Homo sapiens: one gene and its partners. The protein of the gene in region 1 purifies or fractionates together with the protein of each later gene. This does not show direct contact. Each region holds a gene or a part of one and is shown in the gene's direction. Other genes may lie near its edges. The genes, in order: FAHD2B, LGALS9 and DBT.

Region 1 (3,751 bases):
TTCTTTCAGGCTGTAACTTAGCTTTTCAGAAAGTCTTTGGGAGCTATGGCTTAATGAAACACTTACGCCAGGTTCTCCTCAGCACATCCCCCTGATCACAGCCACCCCCATAGGCTCCATTTCTTTTTTTTTTTTTTTTTTTTTTTGAGACAGAGTCTCGCTCTGTTCCCCAGTGGTGTGATCTGGGCTCACTGCAAGCTCTGCCTCCCGGGTTCAGGCCATTCTCCTGCCTCAGCCTCCCGAATAGCTGGGACTACAGGCGCCCGCCAACACGCCCGGCTAATTTTTTGTATATTTAGTGGAGACGGCGTTTCATAATGTTGGCCGGGATGGTCTCGATCTCCTGATCTGATTCGCCCACCTTGGCCTCCCAAAGTGCTGGGATTACAGGTGTGAGCCACCGCACCCGGCCATAGGTTCCATTTCTATATCAGTGGTGACTTTCTGCAAGCTAGGCTGAAGTCCCAAGCTCCAGACCCACGTCTCCAACTGCCCACCGTTCAATGCCCTTTGGATGTCCCATGCAAATTGGAGCTCACTATCATCTCCCCAGACCCGCTGCTCCTCCAGAAGCCCTGTCTCCATGAACGGCCCTGCACCTACCGGGCTAGAGACCCAGGAGCCGGCCTTGTACCTGCTTCCTTCTCACTTCCACCTCCTGTCATCCAGAGCTGTCAGTTCTTCTTCCTGAACATCTCTGGACACTCACCTTCTCCGCCAAGCACCGCACCACCATTGTTCTCACCCGCACCACCCACCCAGATACCTTTCCTTAGACGGGTGGCCAGAGAAAAACTTCTCAAATAGAAGTCGGGCCATGGCACGCCACTGAGGACCTTCCAGCGGTCTCCTGTGCACTTAAACGAGGTCCAGACTCCTTTGTGGGACAAGTAAAGCTCTTGATGATCTGGTCCTTGAGTAATGTGGGGGCCTCTTGCCCAGAGCCCCTCACACTCTTCAAAGCCGGCAGCTGAAGAGCTGAGCAGTAGCTGTCTGTGGAGTTCAGCCACCGCTCCCCGCACGCCTGCCCTCTGCAGGGGATGGAGCACCGTTTCCCCACTTCCCCACCTGCGCCCAGCAGTGCAGGTGAAGGCCTGGCTGCGGAGAGTGGCTGGGAAACGCTGAGCTTTGGGGTCAGGAATGCCAGCTCCACTACTCACCGCCTGTGTCACCCTGGGAAAACAGCTCTGGCCCCAGGTTCTCCATAAGTAAAACAGGGTCACTCATCCCTCCCCTCCTTAACGACATATGTCAGAATCAGAAGCCACAAATCATTCTCTCCCACCCAGCACGCTGCCTTGGTCTCCTAGACCACTTTCCCCAACAATGGGAAAGGCGCCAGGCCCAGAACAAGGCCGAGACCGGATGAGGCCAGCGAAGCGCCCAGGGACAAACTTTCAGGCAGCGCCCACTCTCGGTCTCGGGCAATTGCAGGGTCCCTCCGAGAGCGACCGTCTCCAGAAAACGCGGCCGCCGCCTGCCTATGCCCTGAGCCTGAAGAGCCCCCGGCGCCGCCCGCCCCGCACTGGGCCCGCCCTCCGGGATTGGTGCCCTGCTAGGGGTGGTTGCCTGTGACGTCACAGGACGCGCCCGCTTCTCGCTGGAGTGCGCACCGAGCGGCAGTGACTTCGCCGCTGCTGTAGTTCCCCGGCTGGATGCGGTGACTGGTGCCAGTGCTCAGGCGCCCGCTGCCCTTGACCTCCCGCCCCGCGAGCCCTAACTCAGCGCAGGAGGACCGGCTGCCGCCGCCGCCGCCGCCAGGTAGACCAGGCCTGGCTGGGTTAGGCCAGAAGGGTGTCCCTGGCGCAGGTCTCCCGCGGAGGGCAGAACTAGAACCAGGTTCCCGGCCGTTTCCGACCACACGGATGGGGCGGACCCATGTGAGCCCTCACTAATTGCAGGGGACGAAGCTGGGCATATGGGGAAACTGGGGGTTTCCAGGCGAGTGGACGGTGGGATGGGATCCGACGTGCACACCCACGTTTCAGGCTACTGTTTCCACCTCACGTCGCCGCCCCTTTGCTTATGGACTCTTGCAGAGTTGGATTGAGCTCGGACTGTGTGACATAGTGGTTGTTGCAGAAGCCCCAGGGCCACTTTCTGACTAGTACCTTGGGCACCTGACGTCATCCCTTTGAGTCTCAGTGTCCTCTTCTGTAAAGTGAGGGCGCTTTACCTGAGGGGATTGCTGTAAGGTTGGAATGAACCTGCATGTGTGTGTCATGTGGGAAGGGAACAGTCAATGGGGCCTGGAGTTCTCTTGGAGAGCTGGTAACCAGCCTCGTCCCTGAGGCAATAGCCAGAGAGCGCCTGTAGTTTCCCCACGCATGGCTGTTTGCAGGGCCTCTGGAGGATCTCCTGTGGGAGGTCCCTACTTCTCACTACAATCTTTAGGGCCTTTGGAGGATTTCCTATGGAAGGTCCCCACTTCTCACCACAACATTCTGGGTTAAAATGTCCTTGGTAGGAAGATGGGGCTGAAGCTAGATTTTCTTGCTTGCATTACAGGCTTCTGAACCAAGGACTTCAATGTCACCTGGACTTGGATTCACATCCCAGCTCCCTCCCCTCCTAGCTTTAAGACTGTGTAACCTTGGGCAAATCCCTTAACCGCTTTAAGCCTTAACTGTTTCATCTGTAAAATGGGACTAACAGTACCTACCTTCCACAAGCGTCAAGAATTAAATCAGGCCGGGCGCCGTGGCTCACTCCTGTAATACCAACAATTTGGGAGGCCGAGGTGGGCGGATCACAAGGTCAGGAGATCGAGACCATCCTGGCTAACTCAGTGAAACACCGTCTCTACTAAAAATACAAAAATTAGCCGGGCGTGGCGGCATGCGCCTGTAGTCCCAGCTGCTGGGGAGGCTGAGGCAGGAGAATGGCATGAACCCGGGAGGCAGAGCTTGCAGTGAGCCAAGATTGCGCCACTGCACTCCAGCCTGGGCGACAGAGCGAGACTCCATCTCAAAAAAAAAAAAAAAAAAAAAGAATTAAATCAGACATTGTAGGTAGAGCACTTAATAGTTGGCATTCAGCGGCAGCAGTTACTGTTATGTTAGCATGTGGAGTGTCTGAGTGTGTGCACTTTGGCTCGAACAGCCTTTTGACAGTGGCACAGTTGGTGCTTGTGTAAGATAGCAGGGCAGAGAAGTCAAAACTCTGTTTTCTAGTCAAACTGGCGGGCCACAACAGTGGTGACCTAAGTCTAATGAGTCTTTAACTGAACAAGGCAGATTGAATCTCCAAGTGAGGACCAAGAGTCTGGGGCTCAGCTGCCTCAACATTTTTGGGCATAGAAGGCTGTACAATACAAACTGCCTTTGTTGGAAGAGCAAGGAACCATTCAGGGAAGGCACCATGTGGTAAGGAATAGTGGCCAGACTTGGATTCAGAACAAAACAAGAGAATAGTGTTTGTCTTTAAGTGGAGCCTTGGACTCAAAACAGGACCTGAGCTCTGTGGATAATTTCTTTTTTTTTTTTTTTTTTTTTTTGGAGTCGCTCTGTTGCCTGGGCTGGAGGGATGTGGCATGTTCTTGGCTCACTACAACCTCTGCCTCCTGTGTTCAAGTGATTCTCTTGTCTCAGCTTCCCTAGTAGCTGGGATTACAGGTGCCCGCCACCAGTCCTGGCTAATTTTTTTGCATTTTTAGGGGATACAGGGTTTCACCATGTTGGCCAGGCTGGTCTTGAACTCCTGACCTCAAGTGATCCACCCACCTCGACCTCCCAAAGTGCTAGGGATTTCA
Region 2 (3,651 bases), on another chromosome or scaffold:
TGAAGGTCAGATGTTAAAATCAATGTGTCAGCAAAGTTGTTTCCTTCTGGAGGCCCCAGGGGAAAATCTGTTTCTTTTCCTTTTCCATCTTCTAGAGGCTGCCTGCAGGCCTTGGCTTATGACCCCTCCTGCCATCTTTAAAACCAGCAGCTTTGGCTGGGCCCAGTGGCTCATGCCTATAATCCCAGCACTTTGAGAAGCCGAGGCAGGAGGATCTCCTTAATCCAGGAGTTTGAGACCAGCCTGGGCCACAAAGTGAGACCACGTCTCTACAAAAAATAGACAAACATTAGCCAGGTGTGGTGGTGCATGCCTGTAGTCCTAGCTACCTGGGAGGCGGAGGTGGGAGGGTCACGTGAGCCTGAGGAAGTGGAGGCTACAGTGAGCTGAGATCGCGTCAACACACTCCAGCCTGGCTGACAGAATGAGATCCTGTCTCAAAAAAAACAAAAAACAAAAAACGAAAACAAACAAAAACCCCCCAAAAACGCAAACCAGCTTCTTCTTGCTTCTGTGCTTCTGTTGTCACATCTCCTACCTCTGACACTGATCCTCCTGCCTTCCTTTTATAGGATCCTTGTGATCACATTGGGACCACCTTTAAAATCAGGACAATCTCCCCATGCCAAAATTACTAATTTAATCACATCTACAAAGTCCCTTCTACAACATATTCACAGTTTCCGGGGATTCGAATGTGGATGTTTCTGGGGGGTGGCCCACTGGTAACCAGTGTTATAAGTTTCTTATAAATCCTTCCAGATATATTTTATCTATAAATAAATAAATGCAAGTCCATAGACTTCCCCCACCCACTTTTTATACAAATGGCATCATTCCATATCAGTGCTCAGAGTTCTGTCTTCCTCTTTTTCTTTTCTTTTTAAGGCTACACAGAACCTATTAAATGGAAATACCCTAATTTATTTCACCTTTTTCCTGTCAGAGGACTTTTAAGCTCTTTCCAATGCTTTGCTTTATAATCCTTTGTGTTATAATGCTGCAATGAATAACCTTGTTTGTAGGATGATATTCAATTTAAAAACTCATTTTTCAGGCCAGGCATGATGGTTCATGCCTGAAATCTTGGCCCTTTGGGAGGCCGAGCCGGAAGGATCACTTGAGCTAGCCCAGGCAACACATAGAGACCCCATCTTTACAAAAAATATTGTAAGATTAGTGGGACATGGTGGCCTGCACCTATTTTGTCCCAGCTATTCGGGAGGTTGAGGCGGGAGGATTACTTGAGCCAGGGGGTGGAGGCTGCAGTGAACCATGATCACAGCCCTCACTGAACTCCAGCCTGGGCAACAGAGTGAGAACCCATCTCTAAATAAATAAATAAATAAATAAATAAATAAATAAATAAATAAATAATCTTGTTTTTCCGAATTTTGGGGGCACTATTTAAGATATTTTGAAACCTCACAGAGCTTTTTTGGGGAACTTGTTGCCTTGGAGATTAGCCTGTCCTGTCCCGCCCCCATGATCTGTACTTCCTCTTTCTCCCTCCTGGCTTCCTTAATTAAGCCTTGTGTGTACTTGCCAGCCCATGTCCATCACGCTCTGCCTTCAATTCTAGATGCTGTGCTGTGAATACACTTAAGTGGAGGCCGCATGCTTCCCAGGAGGGTGTGTATTTTCAGTGTTGTGTCTCATGATAGTATGAAAGGCTCTGGAGAGAATCACAGGCTTCCACAAACAGGCAAGGAGAAAAATGTTCCACAGACATGTTTCAGGGAAAACAGGCTTCCCAATCCTAGGCCGTGCTGGTCCATAATTGGATCAGGCTGACTCTCCTTCCCCTACACTGCTGGTGTAGACAGGGACAAGAATGAGAAGTCAGAGACACAGAGAAGCTGTGATTTGCTTGAGGTCACTAAAGTACTTAATGGCAGAGTTCAGACCTGACCTGAGGGGCAACAAAAGACACCCCCCTCAAATCCATGGGGAGCAGAGTCTAACTGAATCAGATCCCAGATTTCCTGGGGCTCTCACGGTGCCAGGTGTGTACACTGAGCTAGGATGGGTTTCCCAGGGTTCTGTGTGGTCACACAACTCAACAATACAGACCAGAAAGCAGTGGCAAGTAGGCTGAATTTGGCTGGTGGGTGTTTTCTGTTTGGCCTGCACAGTGTTTCTTTTAACGTTTTATTATAGGAAATTCAAACATGCAGAAGGAATTGTACCATCAACAACACACACCCATCACTCTGCTCCAACAATGATCAACTCAGGCCTATCTTGCTTCATCCTATACCCTCCCTCGCTTGCTTCCTTCCCACCCTCAGATATGTGGAAGCAAATCCAAAGATACCATTCCATTTCAAATATTTCATTTTGTATCTCTATAATATGGGAATTTGGGGGGTTTCAAGACAGGATTTCACTTTGTTGCCCAGGCTGGAGTACAGTGGTGTGATCATGGCTCACTGCAGCCTCCACCTCCCAGGCTCAAGGGATCCTCCCACCTCAGCCTCCCAAGTAACTAGAGTTAAAGGTGTGCACCACCACACCTAGCTATTTTTTTTTTATTTTTTGTAGAGATGGGGGTCCCATTACGTTGTTCAGGCTGGCCTCAAACTCCTGGGCTCAAGTGATCCTTCTGCCTCAGCCTCCCAAAGTGCTGGGATTATAGATGTGAGCCACTGTGCCCAGCCAGGAGCTTTTACATAATCCTTTTTGACAAATTTTCCCCCAAGAAATTAGAAAGTTTTATAGAAAAAAAAAATCCGGACTTCTGTCTTCTCTTAAAAATTTGGAAGCTCTGCCAATACTGGGCCCAGATGGCAATCACTGCTTAGCACGGAGTAGATGTTGACTTTTCAGATGAGGGGTGTGACATCTACTTTGCCACAGTCCCCACCACTCCCCCACCTGGCCATCTCACCCATACACATCACCTGCCTGGCTCCTTTAGGCATTTAATTTGTGTAGGAAATTGACCTAAAGGAGATATTAGAGAAGACATTAAAAACTTGAAGAATGTGAAAATCAGCCAGGAGATAGAACTGTGCTTTAATGCGGGTTATAGAACGACATTGGATATGAAGCATTTTGGGAATAAACTTTGAAAATTGGAAGTACCAGTTTGTGAATTTTGCTGAGAGAGATGAAGGTGGGGGGTGGGTGACAGTGGTGAAGCATCTCCTATGTGCCAGTCTCTTTTACCACAGGCTGTTTCTCACAAAATCATCAATCATATGCAGCAGGTGAAACACCTTCCTATTTTACAGATGAGGAAACTGAGGCACAGAGAGGTGAAATAGGCTTCCCAAGGTCACTCAGGTCATGAGCAGCAGAGCTAGGATTCAGACCTGGAGTTGGCCTGACTCTAAAACGATGCATGCCTCACCATGGCCCATCACTCCTTTAAAGAGCACCAGAAGAGAGAATTTGACAAAGTGGTTGCCCGTGGGGCCTGGGATGGGTGGGGAAACCACGCTAGGCCTCGGGGCTGCTGAGGGCCTGAGGGAAGGAATGGGGAGCCCGGGCACAGAAATAGAGGAGGGGGCTGCCCCACGGCTACAGAAGGCATCTGGGAAGACGCTCTGCTGAAGGTGGCCAGGAGGGCAAAGGTCACAGTGGCCATTGTTATATGGTGGTGGTGGGGAGAGGGGGATGGCTTCTTCTTAACCTCCTCGGGTGAGT
Region 3 (3,651 bases), on another chromosome or scaffold:
GGGAGGCTGAGGCAGGAGGGTCACTCGAGCCAAGGACGTTGAGGCTACAGTGAGCTGAGATCATGCCACTGCACTGCAGCCTAGGTGACAAAGAAAGACCCTGTCTCAAAAACAAACAAGAAAAACTTCCAAGTCATAAAAATTAAGGAACTCGTAGCAGTTCTTTTAATTATATTTTTCTTCAGTTGATCTACTCTCTTAACCTGTCCTAACTAATGAAAATGAAATGTCTCTATATATTTAAACTTTTTTCTTAACTCTCTAGTTCAAGAATTTGATTTTTTTCCCATCAAGACCCCGATGCACTGAGAAGAATAACACAATGCATGTAAAGAACTTTAACAGGGACCAGACAAGGGCAGTGGGGGAGGGAATTCTTTTTAAGAATGATCTTAAGCATTTTTATTTTGCTATCTTTTAAATTCAATACAATGCATGGCCACCACATGTAAGGTATGAAACTTGATTATTAGATCCCAAAAACAGATTATCAAGAACATTTTGGGTACAGTTAGGGAAATCTGAATATGGACAGGAGAGAAATGGTATTAAGTGACAAAAGGGAGAAGGCAGCAGAGAGGGAAAATATAAATGCTATTCAGTGAGACTTGAGCTGTAAAGTAAATGTTCAGGACATCTCTGCCCTTCAGCTGGCCAAGGACACCAAGTAGCAAACTGGCATCTACTGGTCAGTGCGCTTTGAAATCCTCGTTACGTGTTCTTTCCACACAGAGAAATAGCTTACCTGCTTTTTTTGTGTTTTGATTCCTAGTATTACTTCTCATGGAAATCTTAAGATCAACATGTCAGTGAGGAAATCACCTAGAATTTAGACATTTTCTTTGGAACTTTGGCTGGTCTGTATCATTATTTTGAAAATCTCCTTGATGTTTACAAGCTACCTGACTACTTTATCTTTTATTCTTTAATGATTAGGGTGACCTAGTTCCACATGGCCTGAAGGTAACATTGGCAGTAATGTGACTAGGTACATGTAGACTTGAAATTAAACTCAGCATAAATAAGAGTTCTCTCTCTCCCTCCTTTTATACCTCTTATTGTTTCAAATTCTCTATCCTTTCTAAGTTAAAAGTACTAAAATTGCATTCTTTTTCTGTTAAACAGGCTGCTTCCTTGGGATTACTACAGTTTCCTATCCTTAACGCTTCTGTGGATGAAAACTGCCAGAATATAACATATAAGGTTGGCTATGCAGAGTAAAAATGTTCTTATTATTAATAGAAGATGGGGCAAATGTGCTTGTAGATTAGAGACTTCTATTGTACCTCAAATAGTGATCTTTTTTAGACTAGAATTAAAGGTATGGGGTAAAACATTAAACTTAAGTCTAATTCATTGTTGTTGTTTTTGTGTTAATAATACTGTTTAGAGATTCTTAAAACTATTTTTAAGCTTTTTTTTTTCCTGCTTAAAATAATGGAAATACATAGCTGTATGGCAGATTATGTTACCCACTCTACTTACCCTCTCAAAAAGAAGCAGCTCTTTCAAAATTGAATTCCTGGAATTTTAATATTATTATTCTTATTCTTCTTCTTCTTCTTCTTCTTATTATTATTATTATTATTGGCAGAGTCTCACTCTGTCACCAGTTTGGAATGCAGTGTTGTGATTGTGGCTCACTGCAGCCTCAACCTCTCAGGCCCAAGCAATCCTTCTGCCCCAGCCTCCTGTGTAGCTGGGACTATAGGCATGCGCCACTATGCCCAACTAATTTTTAAATTTTTTGTAGAGACGTGGTCTCATTATGTTGCCCAGGCTGGTCTTGAACTTCTGGTCTAAGCAATCCTCCTGCCTCAGCCTCCCAAAGTGCTGGGATTACAGGCATGAACCACTGTGCCTGGCAAATTCCTGGAATTTTAATATTAAGAATAATTTAAGTGAGAAAAATAATAAAAGTTTGAATTCAATTTGAGTAAACTCTTCTGTGAGTAGTGAAAGTTTCTTAAGACCGAAAACTCTTTTTGAGATGCCTTTCCTGAAGTTTACTTATCATTAGAAGTGCACAACCAGAGGCTGGGCACGGTGGCTCACGCCTATAATCCCAGCACTTTGGGAGGCTGAGGCGGGTGGATCATGTGAGGTCAGGAGTTTGAGACCAGCCTGGCCAACATGGTGAAACCCTGTCTCTACTAAAAATACAAAAATTAGCCAGCCGTGGTGGCCAGCGCCTATAGTCCCAACTACTCAGGAGGCTGAGGTGGGAGAATTGCTTGAACCCAGGAGGCGGAGGTTGCAGTGAGCCAAGATTGTGCCACTGCACTCCAGCGTGGGCGACAAGAGCAAAACTCCATTTCAAAAAGAGAATTAAAAAAAGAAAAAAAAGAAAAGACATGTACAACCAGAAAGTGAGCTTAGATATTCTGGGAGGTCAGCTCCCATACGGTTAATACAGTCAGCTGTATTAATTTTAATTTTAATATCTCCTGATTAAGTATATACTTATTAAAAAAATTTCAGGCAAGAAAATGATGTTGGCCGGGTGTGGTGGCTCCTGCCTGTAATCCCAGCACTTTGGGGGACAGAGGTAGGAGGATGGCTTGAGCCTAGGAATTCAAGACCAGCATGGGCAACAAAGTTAGGAGGCCCCATCTCTACAGAAAAAAAAAATTAGCCAGGCATGGTGGTGCATGCCTATAGTTTTAGCTGCTTGGGAGGCTGAGGCAGGAGAATCATATGATACCTGGGAGATGGAGGTTGCAGTGAGTTGTGATCATGCCACTGCACTCCAGCCTAGGTGACAAAGTGAAACCCTGCCTTTGTCAAAAAAAAAAAAAGAAAAGAAAAGAAAAGAAAAAAGAAAACAAAGATGTTTACCCTCAATTCCATGACCCTAAGATAGCTCACTGTTTATGTTGAGATATACATCTTTCTAGGATTTCATTTTTACATACTTTTTACAAGATATAGAATTATTTATATTTTCTTTAACTTGCTTTTTTCTTTTTCTTTTTTTTTTTTTTTTGATACAGAGTCTTGCTCTGTTGCCTATCTAAAGTATTCCCCATAGAGAATATCTATGCTGTGGTGTAATCATCGCCTCACTGCAGTGTCCACCTCCCACCGCAGCCTTCTGAGTAGCTGGGACTATAGGCACGTGCCACCATGCCCAGCTAATTTTTGTACTTTTTTTTTTTTTTTGTAGAAATGGGGTCTTGCCATGTTGCCCAGGCTGGTCTCTAACTCCTGGGCTCAAGTGATCCACCCACCTCAGCCTCCCAAAGTGCTGGGTTACAGGCATGAGCCACTGTGCCCAGCCTCTTCATTTTCATTTACTATATTGTAGACATCATTGTCAACAAGTATAGCTTTGTTATTTATTTAGCCAGTGACCTATTTATAAACATCATGATTATTTGCAGTTTCTCAAACTTATAAACAGTGTGTACTCAACATCCCTGTGTATCCCTACATACTTCTGCACTTAGTTCCTTAACACGAATTTTTATAAATGTTGGTTCATGTTGTCATATGTTCTCCAGAAAGTCTCTACAGTTTAAGTATCCGTTACCTGAAATGCTTGGGACCAGAAGCGTTTTTGGATTTAAGATTTTTTTGGATTATGGAATATTTGCATATACAAAGGAGATATCTTGAGGACAGGACTCAAGTGCAAACATGAAATTCACT

The links.
Region 2: the proteins of FAHD2B (region 1) and LGALS9 purify together in Homo sapiens (co-immunoprecipitation; one large-scale study listed by IntAct). This does not show direct contact.
Region 3: the proteins of FAHD2B (region 1) and DBT purify together in Homo sapiens (affinity purification with mass spectrometry; one large-scale study listed by BioGRID and IntAct). This does not show direct contact.

What each region holds. Positions count from the first base shown.
Region 1 is NC_000002.12:97,092,711-97,096,461, reverse strand, and holds the start of FAHD2B (oxaloacetate tautomerase FAHD2B, mitochondrial), read left to right. Parts: upstream 1-1,579; 5' UTR 1,580-1,761; exon of another isoform or gene 1,762-1,880; intron 1,881-3,751. UniProt on the Homo sapiens protein: Tautomerase that converts enol-oxaloacetate, a strong inhibitor of succinate dehydrogenase, to the physiological keto form of oxaloacetate. It is thereby required to maximize aerobic respiration efficiency by preventing succinate dehydrogenase inhibition.
Region 2 is NC_000017.11:27,634,113-27,637,763, forward strand, and holds part of LGALS9 (galectin-9), read left to right. Parts: intron 1-3,651. UniProt on the Homo sapiens protein: Binds galactosides. Has high affinity for the Forssman pentasaccharide. Ligand for HAVCR2/TIM3. Binding to HAVCR2 induces T-helper type 1 lymphocyte (Th1) death.
Region 3 is NC_000001.11:100,208,246-100,211,896, reverse strand, and holds part of DBT (lipoamide acyltransferase component of branched-chain alpha-keto acid dehydrogenase complex, mitochondrial isoform 1 precursor), read left to right. Parts: intron 1-772; exon of another isoform or gene 773-857; intron 858-1,125; coding exon 1,126-1,203; exon of another isoform or gene 1,204-1,204; intron 1,205-3,651. UniProt on the Homo sapiens protein: The branched-chain alpha-keto dehydrogenase complex catalyzes the overall conversion of alpha-keto acids to acyl-CoA and CO(2).